Regions from separate parts of the Homo sapiens genome. Here all the other regions are linked to region 1. Evidence: fine-mapped expression QTL. A gene starts in region 1. Each other region holds a variant in brackets. All regions are shown on one strand. Distances are between the middles of the regions.

Evidence for each region. PIP is the estimated chance that this variant, and not a neighbour inherited with it, causes the effect.
Region 2: its variant is fine-mapped to the expression of RYR1 in whole blood (INTERVAL, PIP above 0.99).
Region 3: its variant is fine-mapped to the expression of RYR1 in lung (TOPMed, PIP above 0.99).
Region 4: its variant is fine-mapped to the expression of RYR1 in whole blood (TOPMed, PIP above 0.99). The same link has a PIP of 0.9 or more in blood mononuclear cells.

The regions. Positions count from the first base shown.
Region 1 is chr19:38,430,639-38,435,784 of GRCh38, reverse strand. It overlaps RYR1 (ryanodine receptor 1), which reads right to left and starts at 2,094. Exons shown (of 106, transcript NM_000540.3): 1 at 1,911-2,094. The coding sequence starts at 1,955. RefSeq lists an enhancer at 765-1,340 and a silencer at 2,072-2,211.
Region 2 is chr19:38,525,954-38,531,099 of GRCh38, reverse strand. RYR1 (ryanodine receptor 1) reads right to left here. Exons shown (of 106, transcript NM_000540.3): 72 at 4,048-4,107; 73 at 3,316-3,453; 74 at 2,682-2,794; 75 at 2,405-2,501; 76 at 2,043-2,149. Among named protein-coding and RNA genes, the nearest start is that of MAP4K1-AS1, 68 kb to the left of the region's middle. The variant G/C (reference allele first, on the strand shown) is at 3,012.
Region 3 is chr19:38,566,726-38,571,871 of GRCh38, reverse strand. It overlaps RYR1 (ryanodine receptor 1), which reads right to left. Exons shown (of 106, transcript NM_000540.3): 92 at 4,885-4,961; 93 at 3,955-4,099; 94 at 1,179-1,265. Among named protein-coding and RNA genes, the nearest start is that of MAP4K1-AS1, 27 kb to the left of the region's middle. RefSeq lists an enhancer at 2,374-2,493 and a silencer at 2,356-2,556. The variant A/G (reference allele first, on the strand shown) is at 2,815.
Region 4 is chr19:38,545,069-38,550,214 of GRCh38, reverse strand. It overlaps RYR1 (ryanodine receptor 1), which reads right to left. Exons shown (of 106, transcript NM_000540.3): 88 at 3,689-3,770; 89 at 1,795-1,982. Among named protein-coding and RNA genes, the nearest start is that of MAP4K1-AS1, 49 kb to the left of the region's middle. The variant T/C (reference allele first, on the strand shown) is at 2,601.

The sequences.
Region 1 (5,146 bases):
AGAATGTTTCTTATGGGCGGGATGTGGTCCAGAAGGTTTTTTGTTCTGAGATGGAGTCTCGCCCTGTCGCCCAGGCTGGAGTGTGCAGTGGCGCAATCTCGGCTCACTGCAACCTCTGCCTCCCAGGTTCAAGCAATCCTCCCACTTCAGCCTCCCGAGTAGCTAAGATTACAGGCATGCACCACCACGCCTGGCTAATATTTTTTTGTATTTTTAGTAGAGACGGGGTTTCACCATGTTGGCCAGGCTGGTCTCAAACTCCTGACCTCAAGTGATCCGCTCACCTTGGCCTCCCAAAGTGCTGAGATTACAGGCATGAGCCACTGAGCCCAGCCTCCAGAAAGTTTTGAGAAATCCACCACGACCTCAGTAACAATCAGAAAAACTGACCCAGTCTGGGGTGGAGAGATTCCAGGGCCAAGCCTCCAGAACCCTAACGCTGACTACTTTGGCAAGTCTGGGCCCAGATTTTCTCTGGTGAAGGCAATGGGGCTGGGCACCAGGGGCATCCAGAGATGCCACTTCCTGGCCTTGACCTTGGGTGAGTGATTCTACCATTCGGGCCTTGGTTTCCCTCAAATCTGTCAGGGAGATAAAGATAGGACCCTACCTCAGAAGACAGGGCAGCAAGGATATAATTAGATGTCTCAGGAGGCAGAGGCCCAGGGCACAGGGCCTGGTTTAGAGCGACAGCTCAAGAGCCAGTGGCCATGGCCATGGTCTTATTAGGGCTGGGGAGGGCCCGACCCATGGTGTCTGCTGAGGGGCTGGGGCTGGGGAGAGAGTCTCGGCTGAAGCTAGGCCCCTTCCCAGCTGTCCCCATCCTTCACTACCAGCCCCAGCTGTTTGTTCCTCTCTCCCAGGAAACCGGACCCGGCTCGCCAGGGTCCTATTCTGGGGCAGGAATGCTGTGTCAGCATTTCCTGTGTGGCTCCAGGGCCCCGGGGGGAGGGGCGGGGCTAGCGTCTGGTCAGCAGACCTAGCCCAGAGGAGAGGACGTCCCCTCCCATATTTACGACCCCACACCCTGCGGAGCCACTGGGAGGGGAAGATGGGAAGGACAAGGAGATGGCAGCCCCTCCTCCCTCTCATCCCCTCCCCATCCCCTGCCCAGGCCCCAGAAAAGCCGGCTATTCTGGGAGGGACACCTGTTGTTCCAATTCCCATCCCTGCCCCCAGCTGGGGCTCAGATGCAGGGAGTAACCCAGCTAGAGAGACAGCGAAAATCAGAGGGCCTTAAGCTAAGAAACAGAGACAGGGAGACTGAGATGGAGGAAGAGACAGAGACATGGAGACACCCAAAGAGACAGATGGGGAGAGACACCACCCAGAGACCCTGCAAGACCATTAGCAGCCATTGGGAGCAGCCCTCCTGCCCAAAACGAAGAAGGAAAGAAAGACCCAGAACCCAAGAGATCCCTCCCCCACAAGACCCTCAAGGGCTAGGAGTTGGAAGCAGCTGTGTCCTCCAGCTCACTCCAGCTCCCTTCTCAAGAATTTAAATAGGTCAGAGTCTGGAGCAAAAAGAGAATTAGGGCTAAGGTGGGGGTGGGGGGATGGCTAAATCAAGCCCAGGAATTAGAACCACCTTCCCCAAGTGCCTGCTTCCAAGATGGTGTGAGGGTGTGCTCCCTCGGGGGTCCTTCTTGTGGGGGACAAATCGCTAAAGTCAGAAGAGAGGGCAACCGAAGATCCCTTTCCCATTCTGGAGTCCCCAATCCTACTAATTCTCTGTAGTGAGAAAGGTGAAGGAGACTAAAAGACAGAGTGACAGTCACTCAAAGTGACATAGGAAGAGACCTCGAGTCTCAGAGACCACCAGCAAGCCGGACAGGGACATTCAGAGACAGAGAGACCCTCAGAGAGCCCCAAGAGATAGCCCCACAGGCCCCTAACCCAGAGATACGCACCGTCCGCAGGAACTGGACCTCGTCTTCGCCTTCTGCGTCACCCATGATGTCGAGGTCGGAAGCCCAGGGTCTGAGGTCGGGGAACAGAGGGAGGGGGCTGCGGGCTGGGCGGGAGGGCTGGGGGCGGGCTGGGGTCGGAGACCTCTGGAGACACCAGAGGCACCCGCGAGGTAGATGGAACTGCGAGGAGTACACGCATGCTGGACAGAGATGGGAGGAAGTCCCCGCCCCCGGGCCCCATTGGACCAGGACTCCCCGGCCACTCCCCTTCGCCGGAGCCCTGCCCACATACCCCAAATCTTGGCTGGAGGTTTGCTTGGCCGTTGGCCGCCGGAGGTGGGGTGGGAGAGAGAGTATCTAGGAGGTACCTGCGCTTTCTCCCCACCACGGTAAGTAACGTGCCATCATTCTCCCATTTCACAGAGGGCAGACTGAGGCTCTGAGTGGGGAAGTTCTTGCAAGATATCACGCAGCAGAGCAGGGATGTGCACCAGATCTCCTGACTTTAAAAAGCACCAAACATAGTGATTAAGAACAAGGACTCCGGCCGGGAGTGGTGGCTCACCCCTGTAATCTCAGCACTTTGGGACGCCGAGGTGGGTGGATCACTTGAGGTCAGGAGTTCGAGGCCAGCCTGGCCAACATGGTGAAACCCCCGTCTCTACTAAAAGTACAAAAATTAGCCAGGCGTGGTGACACATGCTTGTAATCCCAGCCACTTGGGAAACTGAGGCAGGAGAATTGCTTGAACTCCTTGAATTCGGGAGGCAGAAGCTGCAGTGAGCCGAGATTGAGCCACTGCACTCCAGCCTGGGCGAGACTTCGTCTGAAAAAAAAAAAAAAAAGAACAAGGACTCCGACTCCAAGCCAGATAATCTGGATCTGAATCCCACCCAGCCTTGCCACTTCCTTGAGTTACATGGATAAGCCACTTAGCTTCTCTGTGCCTCGGTTTCCCCATCCAGTAAGGGGAATATTAATAGTACCGACCTCACGTGGTTGTTGGGAGAGTTAAATGAGATAATTAATTAAATGAGATAAAACTTAAAACAGTGCCAGTGCCTGGTTAATGTAATGTAAGTGTTGCTATTATTATTATTTATTTATTTATTTATTTATTTTGAGACGGACTCTTGCTCTTGTTGCCCAGACTGGAGTGCAGTGGCAAGATCTTGACTCACTGCAACCTCCACCTCCCAGGTTCAAACGATTCTCCTCCTCAGCCTCCTGAGTAGCTGGGATTACAGGCACCTGCCAACACACCCGGCTAATTTTTGTATTTTTGGTAGAGACGGGGTTTCACCATGTTGGCCAGGCTGGTCTCGAACTCCTGACCTCATGATTCGCCCACCTCAGCCTCCCAAAGTGCTGGGATTACAGGTGTAAACCACCACGTCCAGCCCTATTAAAATTATTACTAGGCCAGACACAGTGGCTCATGCCTGTAATCCCAGCACGTTGGGAGGCCAAGGCAGACAGATCACTTGAAGCCAGGAATTTGAGACCAGCTTGGTCAACATGGTGAAACTCTGACTCTACTAAAAACACAGAAATTAGCTGGGCATGGTGTCACACGACTCTAATCCCAGCTACTTGGGAGGCTGAGGAACAAGAATCATTTAAGCCCAGGAGGCAGAGGTTGTAGTGAGCCGAGATTGTACCACTACACTCCAGCCCAGGTGACAGAGCAAGGCTCCACCTCAAAAAAAAAAAAAAAAATTTTTTTTATTAACATGTAGTGGTATACAGTAAGTTATATAAAACAATATCCCATAGTTAAACAAAATTACATAGAAACCGTTCTTCAAGGTATAGCAGGTTTCTAGGTGTTCCATAATTAAATACTGATGTTAACACAACTGCAATAAATAGCACAAAAGTTTGTGTCATATTATGGAATTATATAATTTGGCATTATATAATGTATAATTATATAATTATATATTTAGGCTAATATAATTATACAGTACAATACAATTCTATGTTGTATCTGTTATACATTATCCAACGCATAGTTGTATATTAAATATTGTTTTTCCCTAAAACTTTATGTAAATGTAAAATGATTCTGTGTCATTGAGCATTATATCATAAGATATTAATAGTGTTTCTTATTTTTGTCAGTCATCATTATGTGTTTTAAGACCTACCCTTGTTGCTCTGTGGACACCTGGTGTGTGACAGTGGTGGCTTTGCAGGATTCTCTGGTGACTGATCCCTTCTGTTTTTCCACCTACCCCTACTGGGAGCGGACACCCAGGCTGCCTCCAGCTCTCCCGAAATAATGCTGGAGGGAACATCTGTGTATTGGTCCCCCAGGAAGCTGAGGGAGAATGTTTTATTGTGCGTACCCAGAAGCTAATTGCTGGGTGACATATCCATGCGCACCATTTGTGTAAGTAGTGCTGGGTAGCCCTCGGAATGGCTACTCACTACCAGTGCATGAGGGTCCCCGGGTCCCCATATCCCCAACCCTCATGTGGCATTTCCAACTTAACTAATTTTTGCCAGATTTATATAGGGTGACTCACTGTTTTTTAATTTATTTTCTCTATTTTATTTTTAGAGATGAGATCTCACTTTGTTGCCCAGGCTGGGGTGCAGTGGCGCAATTATGGTTCACTGCTGCCCGGAACTCCTGGGCTCAAGGGATCCTCCCACCTCAACCTCCCGAGCAGCTGGGACAACAGGCTTGTGCCACCACGCCCAACTAACTTTTAAATTTTTTATAGAGGTGGGGTCTTACTATATTGCCCAGGCTGGTATTGAACTGCTGGTCTCAAGTGATCCTCCTACCTCAGCTTCCCAAAGTGTTAGGATTACAGGCAAGAGCCACCGCGCCTGGACTCGCTGTCATTTTAATTTCCACTTCCCTGATGAGTTACCAACAATTTCTAGCATCTTCTCAAGTGCCTATCAGAGTTTTGGGTTTCTTTGTTATCTGCTCATTGTGATCCCTGCTCACTTTTTTTTGTTTTTTTTTTTTGAGACAGAGTCTTGCTCTGTCGCCCAGGCTGGAGTTCAGTGGCACCATCTCGGCTCACTGCAACCTCCGCCTCCTGGGTTCAAGCAATTCTCCTGCCTCAGCACCCCCAGGACTACAGGCGCATACTGCCACACCTGGCTAATTTCTTTTGTATTTTAGTAGAGATCGGGTTTCACTGTGTTGCCCAGGCTGGTCTCGAACTCCTGAGCTCAGCCAATCCGCCTGCCTTGGCCTCCCAAAGTGCTAGGAT
Region 2 (5,146 bases), 95 kb before region 1:
CACTTTGGGAGGCTAAGGTGGGCAGATCACCTGAGGTCAGGAGTTTGAGACCAGCCTGGACAACATGGCGAAACCCTGTCTCTACTAAAAATACAAAAAAAAAAAAAAAAAAGAGAAAGAAAAAAGAAAAATAGCTGGGCATGGTGGCATGCACCTGTAATCCCAGCTACTCGGAAGGCTGAGGCAGGAGAATCGCTTGAACCCGGGAGGTGGAGATTGCAGCGAGCCGAGATTGCGCCATTGCACTCCAGCCTGGGCAACAAGAGCAAAACTCCGTCTCAAAAAAAAAAGAGAGAGAGACCAAAGATCTTGCTGAGGGTGAAGAGTGGGGACCCTTTGTCCTTCTTTCTGCCTGGCATGTGGCTGTGATGCCTAGAAGTGCAGCATCCACCCAGGACTACAGACAAAAGCTAAGAAGGGCAGAGCAGAAAGCTAGAAAGACCCTGGGCCCCTGTCAGTGTCCCTGTGCCACTGCCCAGTCCTGAAGTCTTTAGCTCTTGACTTCACGTTATGTAAGAAAAACAAATCCCTGACAGGCGCGGTGGCTCATGCCTGTAATCCCAACACTTTGGGAGGCTGAGTGGGGAGGATTGCTTGAGTTCAGGAGTTTGAGACCGGCCTGGGCAACATAGTGAGACCCCCATCTCTACCAGAAAAAAAAAAAAAAAATAGCCAGGCATGGAGGCACGTGCCTGTAGTCCCAGCTACTCAGGAGGTTGAGGCAGGAGGATCTCTTGAGCCTGGGGTGATGTGGAGTGGGGGGTCTGAGCTGCAATGAGCTATGATATGACACTGCATTCCAGCCTGGGCAAGAAGAGCAAGATCTTCTCAAAAAATAAAAAAGTAGGCCAGGTGCAGTGGCTCACGCCTGTAGTCCCAGCACTTTGAGAGGCCAAGGCGGGAAGATCACTTGAGGTCAGGAGTTTGAGACAAGCATGGCCAACATGGTGAAAGCCCGTCTCTACTAAAAATACAAAAATTAGCTGGGCGTAGTGGTGGGCGCCTGTAATCCCACTTGCTTGAACCTGGGAGGCGGAGGTTGCAGTGAGCTGAGATTGTGCCACTGCACTCCAGCCTGGGTGACAGAGCGAGACTCCATCTCAAAAATAAATAAATAAATAAATAAACAAAATGAAAAATAAATCCCTGTGCCTTCATTCCCTTATCCACACAAAGGAGATGCAATAATCCGTCTCACAGTGTGGCGGTTAAGTGAGAGGATATAGATATCCCCGCTTAGCTTGGTGCCTGACACATAATAAGCATTTGATGAATGGCTGCCTGCTACTGTCAGCAGCAGCGGCAGCAGCTGCGCCATCTGCATCACAATTATTTATTACTAAGCCTGTCATTAGCCTACATGAAGCTTTTGAGGGAATTACAGAAAACCTCCCCACTACTTCTGTCTGTTGGAAATTTGTCATACATATGGATTTTTTTCATAATATACTGATTTTATTTGAGCAAGACACTTTCTTCTAGAAAAGCCTAGTTAATCTACATTGTCTGTGATACGAACCCCTCAGACATGCCCTTGTGAAGTGTTCAGCCATGCAACGGTGTATGTTGGCTGTGCCTGTCCTAGCAAAGTGACATTTACGTTCCTTTTCTTTTCTTTTTGAGACAGAGTCTCGCTCTGTCGCCCAGGCTGGAGTGCAGTGGTATGATCTCGGCTCACTGCAACCTCCGCCTCCCAGGTTCAAGCGATTCTTCCGCCTCAGCCTCCTGAGTAGATGGGATTACAAGTGCCCACCACCAAGCCTGGCTATTTATTGTATTTTTGTAGAAACGGGGTTTTGCCATATTGGCCAGGCTGGTCTTGAACTCCTGGGCTCAAGTGATTGCCTGCCTCAGCCTCCCAGATTGCTGGGACTACAGGCGTGAGCCACCGTGCCTGACCAGCAAAGTGATATTTAAAGATCCGTCTGTCTTGGGCTCCCCCAGGACCTGGAGGGCCTCTCCTGAGGCACAGGGAAGCTGCTGGGCTGGGGGTGGCCCCAGGACCTTGGGGGCATTTCTGGGGCCCTGGCAAGAGTCTTCACCTCTTTTCCGTCAGGGCAGTGCGGCTGAAGTGCAGGACCAACTGGTGCAGGGGGTCTGGCTTCTTCTCTTCCACCTCTTCCTCCTCCTCCTCCTGCTCCCCAGCTTTCTGGTGGGAGAGGGGAGACTTGGGGAGAGGGTTTCTAGAGTCCCCTCCTGTCACTGCCCCCATGTCCCTGTTGGTCTGGATTTTTTTTTCTCTTTTCCCACATCCTGCGCCCTACTTTGGTTCTACTCAAGCCAGGAGCTGGCATTTCTATACCCCTTGATGTGGAGGGCCGACCCCTGGAGGTGTGCCAAGGGTGGCCTCCGCCCCAGCCCTATCCAGCTCGCCCCCCACTCCCCCAGGCGGGTCCCAGCTCACTGAAAGGTCATCTATCATGCGGTCCTCAAAACTGTGGTCTTCAGTCAGGATCCATGCAGCCTTGTAGCTCTCCAGGAACATGTTACATGCCCGGTGCCTGCAGGGGAGAGGTGTGACGTCACTGGGACGCGCCCTCCTCCGTGCTTCCCGACCTCCCATGCGCCTGCAGCCCCCAACCACCCTCAAGGCCCCATCACGTTGGCCCTCCATTCTCCAGACTCTCCAGCCACCCTTTCTCCGCAGCCCTTCACGCTTCCCTTGTCCCTGGGGGCCTTACGTGGGCAGGTTGTACAGGGGCGTCATACGGAAACAGGCCACGACTGCCCGCCGGCGCTGTTTGGACAAAAGCTTGTGCCACACGGCCTTCTTAGACTTGTAAGGGTGCTCGGTCTGGGGAGGGGATAGCAGGACAGTCACATCCCCAGACCCTGCCCCTCTCACTCCCAGCCCTGGATGAAACTGCCCAGCTGTGTCGAAGTCCATATTCAGGTTAAGACTCACACGGCAGAAGGAAAACCTTGTCTCCACCAACAGAGTCAGGGTCCTGACTCCGCCTCCAGACCTAAGTTTCCATCCTAGGCCAGGTCCCACAGAGCCAGGACCACGA[G/C]CCAGGCCACGACCAATTCTACGACCCACCCAAGGCCCTGCCCACAAACTCAACGCATCTCCTCTAGGCCCCACCCCTAGACCTAAAGATCTGCCCCTTCCCTGTCCCGCCCCCAGATGCAAGATTAAGCAGCAGACCCCTCCCCCGATCCATTCTAAGCCTCGCCTTAAACTCGAGGCTCCACCTCCTGCCCTGCCCCAAAACTTAATAGTCATCTCCAGACCCCACCCACATCCTTGAAGCCCCTCCCCCCGCCAGGCTCCGCCCAGAGACCCAGTAGAAAGACCCCTCCGGCCCCACCCACCTGGTCCAGGTAGTAGAGCACGGCTGACACTTCCTGGACTCTGCGCACGATTTTCTCGGGGTCATCGGCGTCCTCCTCGCGACCCGGGACGCCCCGGTACAGAGCCATCTGCCAGCGCAGAGACGGGGAGCCTTCGACCTGAAGGGAGGAAGAAGGAGTGGCCGGCGTGAGGGACCCTTCCCACAGTGTCCGCCGGATGTCCCCTTTCCGTTTTTGGGAGGACTCAATGGGTGAGTGCATGTTGAGGCCTTTCTTCTTCTTCATCTTTTTGTTTTGAGACGGAGCCTCGCCCCATCACCCAGGCTGGAGTGCAGTGGTGCGATCTCAGCTCACTGCAACCTCTGCCTCCTGGGCTCAAGCGATTCTCCTGCTTCAGCCTCCTGAGTAGCCGGGACTACAGGCACCCGCCATCACACCCAGCTAATTTTGTACTTTTAGTAGAGACGGGGTTTCACCACGTTGGCCAGGCTGGTCTCGAACTCCTAACCTCAGGTGATCTGCCCGCCTTGGCCTTCCAAAGTGTTGGGATTACAGGCATGAGCCATTGTGCCCGGCCTAATTGTTGTATTTTTAGTAGAAACATGGTTTCGCCACATTGGCCAGGCTGGTCTCAAACTCCTGACCTTTGAGGTCTTTCTTCAATGCCTGGTCTTTGGTAAATGCTCAAACCTTCACTAATATTGTGGTTACTTTCTGACTTGCTTCTTTTGCTTGCAGAGGAAGGAGGCATACCTTTCCCTGAAGGTGAAGGTTGTTGTGCAGAAATTCCCGGACCTCCTCATCTGTGTCTTTCTGGGGAGACAGAGCCAGGCTGGGTCACTCTGGAGGTCCCATCCTCCTTCCTGACCCACAACCCTTTCCTTCCAGGCCCAGCACCCCAGGAACTGAAGAGGTTTTTCTGGGGTGGGGGTGGGGGTCTGAGAGAAACAAAAGGATGCAGAGGTTGACGGGGTCAGAAGGGGTCCTAGAGGGGCCGGAGGGTCACAGAGTCACCTTGAAGATACAGTAAGGATTCGAGGGGCCTCGTGGAGGTCTGGGAAGAGGCAAAGGGTGACAAGAGGATCTCATCAAAGGTCAAATATGGCCAAAGAGGGATGACTGGGGGGTCAGAGTGGGGCAGGGAGTCTTTGAAGATCAGAAGGGGTCAGCAGAGGTCATGGGGGATCACGTAGGTCAACGGAGTCACTGGTTACACAGGGGCCAAAGGGGGCATCAGCAGGGTGGGGGTTCACTGGGGTTCTAGGACGGGGAGCCCTCAAGGACCAAGGTGAGGGGTCCATGGAGCCCTGGAGGGCTCTCTGGCGTCCTGGCAGGACTCAGCAGTCCTGGGAGGTGCCTGAGGTTCTGAGGGAAGGGGTGTCCTGGTGGTAGCAGGGGAGAAGTCGGTGGTCTTTAGGGGTCCAGGGGGTTAGTAGGTTGTCAGGGTGTTGGTGTGGTCCTGGGGGGAGGGCTATAGGGGTCTTGGGGCAGAATCCTGGGAGGGTTCCTTAGAGTCCCTGAAGCTGGAAAGGATCGGAGAGGAGGGAGATTGTCCTTGTTGTCCCACACAAGGGGTAAGTGGGGTCCCGGGAGGCCTCCTTGATATCCCAGCAAGCTTAAGAGGTTCTACAGCCCGGGTATTTTGGTCTCCAGGACAGTTGAGACCTCAGAGGTTTGGGTACAGTCCCGGGCTTGGGGTTCATGGATCCTGGGGAGTTATGCAGGGTCGCAGGGCTCCCTGAGCCCCTGAGAGTCTTGGGGGCTTAGTTGGGCTTCAACAGGGCCCAGGTGTCAGCAGGGTCCTGAAGGAAAGGGATGGTGAGCCAAGGGCTCAGCAGGAACCCAGAGGTTC
Region 3 (5,146 bases), 140 kb before region 1:
GCTGTAGCTAGCAAATCAGACTCTGACCTGGGAATTAGCCTATTGAACTGAGTGGCACAGAACTGAAGACAGAGTTGGTTCATCTTGATAGTGGAGCCCTAAAGAGACTGCCCACTAATATTAACACTAACATGAAAATTAGTAGCAGCTAAACATTTACACAGTGCTTTTTATATGCCAGGTACTGTTGCTCTAACTGCCTTACACACACTCATCCTCTTTTTTTTGGTGGGGTGGACGGAGTTTCACTCTTGTCACCTAGGCTGGAGTGTAGTGGTGCAATCTCGGCTCACTGCAACCTTTGCCTCCTGGGTTCAAGGGATTCTACTGCCTCAGCCTCCTGCATAGCTTGGATTACAGGTGCCCGCCACCAGGCCTGGCTAATTTTTTTTTGTATTTTTAGTAGAGACGGGGTTTCACCATGTGGCCAGGCTGGTCTTGAATTCCGGACTTCAGGTAATCCACCTACCTCGGCCTCCCAAAGTGCTGGGATTACAGGCGTGAGCCACTGTGCCTGGTGCCTTATCCTCTTTCAATCCCCACAGCTCTAAGAGGTATTCCATTTTACAGATGAGGGAGTTGAGGCACAGGGATGGTAAGCACCTTGCCTATCGTCATGCGCCAGTGGGCAGTCCCACTGTGGGACTTCTGGGTCCCACAGAAGCCATGCTTCGATCTCTCTAGTCTACCTTACTGTCCTGTTATCTAGACCCCTGGCAAGACCCCAAGGGTCCCTTTGTCCTTCAGGAGGCCTGGTTCTTAACCCATTCCTTCCATTCTGTGAGTGGCCCATTTCTTCCTCCCTGCAAACTTCTGTTTAGCTTATGTGAAACCAAAGATGCTTAACAGAATCAGTGGGTGTTGCCAAGAGCTGAGGGCCTGCACCCAGGCGCACAGGACTGGCATGTGGCCGAGCTGAGCAGAGAACTCAGCTCCTGCTCCTGCTCTAACTCCCACAGACACTCAGGCTTCTGTCCCAGATGGATCCAGATATCCCCTACTCACCCCCATGGAGGGGGGTCCCAGGATCCAGGTGTCCAGCCTGAACCCTCCTAACGACCCAAAGCCCAATACCTTATCCCTTCAGTGGAGGAACCCTGAAATTCTGATAGGGGCTGAGCCTCCCATCCCACAGCATGGAAAAGGGCCTGACCCTCCCAGCCCTTCAGGACCAGCACCTTATAAAACAGCAAGATGAAGTTGATGGCAAATGCCAAGAAGAGGGCAAGGAACCGCAGGGTGTAAAAGTTCCGGGACAGGTAGTTCTGAGAGAGAAGAGAAAAAGAGAGAAAGCGCTCACAGATCAGCCTCTTCCCTGGAGAATTCATCCCATCATTTACCTGCAATCAAAGTACCTGGGCTCTCAATATCTTTCCTACAACCTCCTATTTATTTATTAATTATTATTATTATTATTTTTGAGACAGAGTCTTGCTCTGTCGTCCAGGCTGGAGTGCAGTGGTGCGATCTTGGCTCACTGCAACCTCTGCCGCCCGGGTTCAAGCAATTCCTCTGCTGCCGCCTCCCGAGTAGCTGGGACTACAGGCGTGTGCCACCACGCCCAGCTAATTTGTGTATTTTTAGTAGAGACAGGGTTTCACCATATTGGCCAGGCTGATCTCAAACTCCTGACCTCGTGATCCGCCCTCCTCAGCCTAAGTGCTGGGATTACAGGCTTGAGCCACCACGTCCAGCCTATTTATTTATTTTTGAGACAAGGTCTCACTCTGTCACCCAGGCTCGAATGCAGTGGCGCCATCTCGGCTCACTGCAACCTCTGCCTACCGGGTTCAAATTCTCATGACTCAGCCTCCTAAGTAGCTGGGATTACAGGTATGCACCACCACACTCAGTTAGTTTTTGTATTTTCAGTAGAGACGGGGTCTCACCATGTTGGTCAGGCTGGTCTCAAACTCCTGACCTCAGGTGATCCACCCACCTCAGCCTCCCAAAGTGCTAGGATTATAGGTGTGAGCCACCTCGGCTGGCCTCAACCTCCTATTTGTTGAGTGCTTGCTTATACCAACATCTGGGCTAAGAACTTTATTTGCATGAGCTTGTTTAATTCTCAGTACACCCCTGTGAAGTGGGCACTACTGTTATGCGCACTTTACAGATGAGGAAACTGAGGCTCAGGGAAGTGGTGTCTTGCTCAAGGTAACATAACCAACGAGTGGCAGAGATGGGATTTGAACCCGGGCAGTCAGCCTCCAGAGTCCAAGCTCCAAGCCACTTGGCCATGCTGCTTCCTGAGTGAGGTCACCCCACCTGTCGCCCTGCCTGCTTTACAGAAGATGAAAGGGAATTTTTTTTTTTTTTGAGTCAAGGTCTTACTCTCACCCAGGTTGGAGTGAAGTGACACAACCATAGCTCACTGCTGCCTCAACCTCCTGTGCTTAAGTGATCCTCCCGCCTCAGCCTCCTGAACAGCTGGGACCACAGGCATGTGTCACCTCACCCAGCTAATTAAAAAAACATTTTTGGCTACTCTGGGTGCACTGCCTAGAGGGTAGCCCTGCTCTGCAAGGAGCAGTAATTAAAAAAAAAAAAAGATTAAAAATATTCGGCCAGGTGCAGTGGCTCACGCCTGTAATCCCAGCACTTTGGGAGGCCAAGGCGGGTGGATCACAAGGTCAGATCTAGGCCATTCTGGCTAACACGGTGAAACCCCGTTTCTACTAAAAATACAAAAAATTAGCCAGGCGTGGCGGCGGGCGCCTGTAGTCCTAGCTACTCGGGAGGCTGAGGCAGGAGAATGGCGTGAACCCAGGAGTCAGAGCTTGCAGTGAGCCGAGATTGTGCCACTGCACTCCA[A/G]CCTGGGCAACAGAGCGAGACTCCGTCTCAAAAAAAAAAAAAATTCTTTTGTAGAGACAGGGATCTCCCTATGTTGCCCTGGCTTGCCCCAAACTCCTGGGCTCCAGTGATCCTCCTACCTTGGACTTCCAAAGTACTGGACTTACAGGCATGAGCCCCCTCGCACGGCCAGGAACATCTTCCATCTCTCCCTCTTTCTCTCCACCTTTCCCTCCATCCCTCATTCTTCCCACAAATTCTGACGGAACCACCTTCGTTCCACATGATTCCCTCACCGCCCCCCCGCCCCCCACCACCACTTTGTTTGAGGCAGAGTCTCACTCTGTCGCCCAGGCTGGAGTGCAGTGGCACGATCTCGGCTCACTGAAACTTCTGCCTCTTGGGTTCAAGCGATTCTCATGCCTCAGCATCCTGAGTAGCTGGAATTGCAGGCATGCACCACTATGGCTGGCTAATTTTTTTTTTTTTTTTTTTTTGTATTTTTAGTAGAGATGGGGTTTCACCATGTTGGCCAGTCTGGTCTTGAACTCCTGACCTCAGGCGATCCGCCTGCCTCGGCCTCCCAAGGTGCTGGGATTACAGGTGTGACCCACCGTGCCCAGCCTCCCTCACCCCCTCCTATCGGGCCAGGCCTGGAGGGGAGACAGGATGGAGGGAACCCTGGGACCTGCCTCCCAACACCCACCCTTCTTCCTGGCCTGGATGAGATGAACGCTTCCCCAGGAATTGGGAGAGCTCAGACCTCCACAGCAGCACTGGGAGTGGTGGAGGGACTGAGACTGTAAGGGCTGACAGCCAAGAACAGGCCACGGTGGGAAGGCCAGAGTGGTGGCCTCACTGAATGTAGCTCTGGACAGAGGATGGAGGTGGAAGTGTGGGTGGGTGGCCCCGATGAACAGAGGTATGGAGGTTGGAATAAGGATAGTGAGCAGGGAAGGGACAAGGAACCAAGTGAGGGCCATCTGAAAATGCTACCCTGTCCGCAGGTCTGGGGATACCTCTGCCCTTTCCCCAGCTAGGGTTCTTCTTAGAGACGAGCTTGAACAGATGAACTCAAGAACAAGGTGAGCAGGAGAGGTGGGCACCAGAGGTGGGGCTCCCGGGGAGAAGAAGGTTCAGGTGACCTGGCTGGATCCTTACCAGGAACTTCACCCTCTGCACCTCCAGTTCTCCCCAGAATTCGCCTCCAGCTTCCTCCTTCTTTGGAGGGGGTGAGGGAGGTGCTTGCTTCTTGGGGGGCTCTGGTGTGGGCTCGGGAACTTCTTCCTTCTCCCCATTCTCGGCACTGCAGGGCAGGACAGAGAGAGGTCAGGAGGTGCCTGGGCAGGCAATGCATGAGTTCATTCATTCAAAACCATTCACCAAGGGCCCGCCCTGTGCCTGGCCCAGGTTTGGATGGTACTGGGTACATGGGATGATGAGATAATCAGGACTTGCCCTTATGGGGCTCCAGTCCAATGTGGGAGACAGGCAGTGACAGTGACACCAGGCAGTGACAGCCCAGAGTGGTCGGGGCTGGGATGGAGGAAGCTCAGGGGGTTGTGGGAATCTGGAGGAGACACCTCCTCAACTTAGGAGGGGGTCAGGTGTCCTGGAGAATTGGAAAGGATGAGAAAGACTCAGAGTAGGCATGGGGGCCTGTGTTCCAGGCAGCGGGAAAGCACATGCGAAGGCCTGGCAGTTAGATGGGAGTTTTCATTTTTCTATCTCTCCATATTTTTTTTTCTTTTTCGACACAGGGTCTTGCTCTGTCACCCAGGCTGGAGGGCAATGCTGCGATCAGGGCTCACTGCAGCCTCCACCTCCAGGGGTCAAGTGATCCTCCCACCTCAGCCTCCCCACACACCACCATGCTTGGCTAATTTTAATTTTTTTTTTATGTTGCCCAGGTTGGAGCATTTATTTCTTGATTCTTTTACTCAGAGCCCCTCCTCCGTGCCTGAGTCTGGGCTGGGTGATGCCGAGGACACAGGGTGGCCAGGACAGCCTTGGGGCCTGACCTCTGGAGGCTCCTACTCTAGGAGGGAGGCAGTGATAGGGGCTAGGCCCCTCAGCCCCAAGGCCACTCACTCGGCTTTCTCCGGCTCCAGCTCTGGTTCCGGCTCGGGCTCTGGCTCTGGCGGGAGCTCCTCCTCCACTCCATCCACCTAGGGACAGGGCAAGCATCAGGGCTGAGTCCTCACCCTAAGCGCTTCTCAGGCTGCCTGCCTGCTCCTCTCATCTCCTTTCTCTCTTATTTCCCCTGGGTAATCTAAGTTTTACACTTCCCTCCACCAGAAAGAGGCAGATTATGATTCCCGTTTTACAGAGGGGAAACTGAGGCTCATCGAGG
Region 4 (5,146 bases), 110 kb before region 1:
AATTTATTCAACAAGGGAAACTGAATAAGGTCTAGGATTAGATAGCAGCATTGTGCCAATGTTAATTTCCTGATTAGCATAATTGTCCTGTGCTTAGGTAGGAGAATGAATTTGTTCTCAGGAGATACACGCTGAAGTGTTTCAAAGTAAAGGGAAATTGGCTAGGCGAGGTGGTTCATGCTTGTAATCCCAGCACTTTGGGAGGCCGAGGCAGGCAGATCACTTGAGGCCAGGAGTTCAAGACCAGCCTGGCCAACATGGTGAAATCCCATCTCTACTAAAAATACAACACACACACACACACACACACACACACACACACACACACACACACACACAAATTTAGCTGGGCATGGTGGTGCGTGCCTGTAATCCCAGCTACTCAGGAGGCTGAGGCAGGAGAATCGCTTGAACCCAGGAGGCGGAGGTTGCACTGAGCTGAGATTGCACCACTGCACTCCAGCCTGGGCAACAAGAGCAAAACTCCGTCTCAAAAAAAAAAAAAAAAAAAAAAAAGGAAAGGAAAGGGAAATCATGATGGAGTAAATAGTAAATAGAAAACATTTGGGCAATGTGGGTGAAAGGTATTCAGAAATTCTATGTGCTGTTCTTGCAACGTCTCTATAAACCTGAAGTTATTTCAAAATAAAAAGTTAACAAAATGGTAACATTAAAGATCAGGGAGTAGTAATAGCAGCTAACATCTCTTGAGGACTCACCATATTCCAGGTACTGCCCGCACTGCCCATCCTCACAATAGTTAATAGTTGTTTTATTTTTATTTTTATAGATACAGGGTTTCACTAGGTTGCCCAGGCTGATCTCGAACTCTTGGGCTCAAGCGATCCTCCCACCTCGGCCTCCCAAATTGCTGGGATTATAGGCATGAACCACCGCACACTGCCAATAGTTAGTGGTTAATGTGATTATCCTATCCCCATTTTACAGAGTAGGAAACTGAGGCTCAGAAGAAAAGATGGAGAGTTAGGATGGGAGAGGTGGTTAGAGGAGGAGGAGTGGGTTTCTGAATAAGGATGTTCCAGCACTTCCCTCCTAGCAGGCTCATTATTTAGACTTGGAATGGTCTAGTTAGTGACTGCCTCCCCCATTAGACTATAAACCCATGAAAGCACGGGCTGTGTCTATCTTGGTCATTGATGCGTCAATAGTGTCACTACAGGCCCTACACAGAGAAGAAAGCCAGCCAATGTTTATTGATGGAATAACTGATGCCTATTCACAATAATGATAATGTTATGACTATCAATAAAGATAACAGTAATAACGGTTCTCATCTGTGTTAATGCATTTCATCCTCAAAATAACCCAAGGGGGCTGAGCGAGGTGGCTCATGCCTATAATCCCAGCACTTTGGGAGGCCAAGGTAGGAGAATTGTTGGAGCCCAAGAGTTCAAGAGGAGCCTGGGTAATGTAGTGAGACCACATCTCTACAAAAAATAAACTTAAAAATTAGCCAGGCATGATGTCACACACCCGTCGTCCCAACTACTCAGGAGGCTGAGGTGGGAGGATTGCTTAAGCCAGGAGGTCAAGGCTGCAGTGAGCTATGATCACGCCACTGCACTCCAGCCTGGGCAACAGAGAAAGACCTTGTCTCTAAAATGAAATAAAACAGAATACATATAACCCAAGGACTGTTTTATCCTCATTTTACAAACAAGGAAAGTGAGGCTTGCAGAGATGTCTCTTGCCTGAGGCAGCCAGCCAGAAGGGTATGGCTGGCCCTTGGCAACCCCACCCAAGTCCTGGGCCCACACGATGTCCCACACCCACCTTCTGGAAGTCCTTCTTGGAGATGAGGCCACGGGGATCCGTTACGTAGTCCTGGAAGGCTTCAGAGCCCACAATGTCCTTGAGTTTCAGGAACATGTCGAAGAACTTGAGGATCATCTCCACATTGGATGAGGATTCCACGAGCATGTCCACCATCTGCCGGGCGATCATGCCGTTCACCACGTTCCCTGCAGGCAGCCCCAGGTCAGTGTGGCCGGTGAACACTCCCTTCTGGGGCCCCACCAGGCTTGCCTCTCTTTCCAGCCCAGGAGCCACCACGCTGCTGGAGTGTCCCTGGCCAGCCACAGCCTCCCCTCCACAGGTCCCTTCCTGACCTGCGTCAGCCTCCTGTGCCAACCTGGCTGATCCTGCCTTTGCCCACCTCCCCCAGTAAAGCTAATGATGTCAGGTCGGACGTGGTGGCTCACGCCTGTAATCCCAGCACTTTGGGAGACCGAGGTGGGTGGATCACTTGAGGCCAGGAGTTTGAGACCAGCCTGGCCAACATGGTGAAACCCCGTCTCTATTAAAAATACAAAATCAGCTGGGCGTGGTGGCATGTGCTTGTATTTCCAGCTACTTGGGAGGCTGAGGCACGAGAATTGCTTGAACCTGGGAGGCGGAGGTTGCAGAGCCGAGATCGTGCCACTGCACTCCAGCCTGGGTGATGGAGTGAGACTCTGTCTCAAAAAAAAAAAAAAAGATAATGATGATGTACGCTAAAGGTAGGTGCCAAATGCTACCCTGGCACAATCACACAAAAAGGGAAGTGTGTGACTCTACTTTTAGGAAGAGAAACTGAGACA[T/C]AGAGAAAGTCATGCACTCAAAGTTACATAGCCAGTAAAGTGGGGAGAATGGATTTGAACTCAGAGCTGCATGACCTCAGGGCTTACACAACTAAAACTTCCACCAGTACACACAGTCAGGAGGGTCCACAGAAGACTGAGGCTAGCCAGTGGTAAGCAGCAAGGAGAGGTAGAGATTGGCAAACTGCGATCCCACACTCCCTCTAAAGGCAGCAGCTGAAGCTTGGCTCCAGTTTATTTTTGTAATTTTTAAATTTTAATGTAGGCTGGGCGCAGTGGCTCAAGTCTGTAATCCCAGCACTTTGGGAGGCTGAGGCGGGAGGATCACGAAGTCAGGAGATCCAGACCATCCTGACCAACATGGTGAAACCCCGTCTCTACTAAAAATACAAAAAAAAAAAAAAAAAAATTAGCCAGGTGTGGTGGCGGGCGCCTGTAGTCCCAGCTACCGGGGAGGCCAAGCAGGAGAATGGCGTGAACCTGGGAGGCGGAGCTTGCAGTGAGCCGAGATCGCGCCACCGCACCTCCAGCCTGAGCGGCAGAGCGAGACTCCGTCTCAGAAAAGAAAAAAAAAAAAAAGGGATCCTAATATATCCACATTCATCAATTGTTTATCTTTTGCCACATTTGGACATTTGGTTTGTTTTTGGGGTTTGTTTTTTTGAGACAGGGTCTTGCTCTGTCACCCAGGCTGGAGTGCAGTGGTGTGATCACAGCTCACTGCAGCCTGGACCTCCCGGGCTCTGGTGATCCTCCCACCTCAGCCTCCCGAGTAGCTGGGTCTACAGGCACACACCACCACACTAGGCTAATTTTTGTATTTTTAGTAGAGACAGGGTCTCACCATGTTGCCCAGGCTGGTCTCAAACTCCTGACTTCAGGTGATCTTCCCACCTCGGCCTCCCAAAGTGCTGGGATTACAGGTGTAGCCACCGCATCTGGCCTATTATGGCTTCTTCATCAACCCATGGATCCTGACACGATGTCAGATGGGGTTGAGGATTAGGGTCTCCCGGGTCTCAGGGGGCCATTCTCAGGCTTCTCTGAACCTCTTTACTGTTCCCTCACCCTCACTCCTGGGTGTTTACCTTCTAGTAGCGACAGCAACATCACCACCATGTCCTTCTGCAGATCCAGCAGCTCCTTCAGCAGCTCGATCTGGCTTGAGTCCTAGAGATCCCAGCTCGGTGAGGGCTGGTCTCAGCATACACCTCCCCCACCTCTGTTGCTTCTCCCCCTCCTCACCTACCCAGCAGGGCCTAAACCCGTTTTCTCCCCTCTTACCTCCGAGGGGACCCGAGTCCAGACATGTTCCTCGGAAGCAGGGGAAGGGGCAGAGAGACAAGATTGTGGGGGTGGGGTTGGCACTTGGGGGACGGGCTCGATAGGTGATGGGTAGTGGGAAGGCTGGCAGACAAGGAGGACTGAGAGGCTTGCGGGGCAGACATTTGGGGCAGAGAGAGACAGAGACAGACAGAGACAAACACTGGGGACAGAGACCCAGGTCTAGGAAGGGATGTGAGCCCAGCACTGTGCCTGGCCTACGGTGGGATTGACAGATGTATGTTGAATATAATGTGTGATGGCAAGAGTGGGACTCTGGGTTCAGGAGGAAGGCTGCAGAGACAGCCATGTGCTTTCTGGTAAGCCGTCTGCGGGGAACATAGGGCCACAGTGTAGGGCCCATAGAAACCTCCAATACAAAGTTTTGCCTCATGGCCCCTATTTATGTTAGGTTGAGTCACATAAAATTGCCAACATGTGATCACTTTTGGCTCACAAAGTGGTAATTTCTTTCTTTTTGAGACAGAGTTTTGCTCTTGTTGCCCAGGCCGGAATGTAATGGCGCAATCTCGGCTCACTGCAACTTCTGCCTCCCAGGTTCAAGCAATTCCCCTGCCTAAGCCTCTCGAGTAGCTGGATTACAGGCATGCGCCACCATACCCAGCTAATTTTTTACTTTTAACAGAGATGGGGTTTCTCCATGTTGGTGAGGCTGGTCTCGAACTCCTGACCTCAGGTGATCTGCCCGCCTAGGGCTCCCAGAGTGCTGGGATTACAGGTATGAGCCACCGTGCCAGATCCAAAGTGGTAATTTCATATGGTTCCACCAAATAAAATGGAGAGGGGAGGAGATGATACCAGATAAATGGGATGTAAGGATCTTTTGCTCCCATGCTAGTTCTATCAGTTGTTGATTCCAATCCTAATGTATTTCCACAGTTCCAAAGCTCTGCATTCTGCGCCTAAGGTCCCGACACTCCTAATCTCAAGATCTTACAGTGGGTGGGCGCCTGTGGTTTGTGCCTACCCATGATTCAGTCCCCCTCCTCTCTTTACAATCCCTCAATTTTCACCTGCGGAGTCCCCCATCCCACAGTCAGAGCACATGGGGCTAACCCTACCTCCTGGTTCTATAGGTGGGTATATGACCGGGCCTGGTCAGTCAAAGCTTTCTTTCCTAAGCCTATGATGATTGGTTCAGGGAGGGACATGTGACCCAATAGGCTAGTCAGAGAGAATCTCAGGTTTTTTTTTTTCTTGGA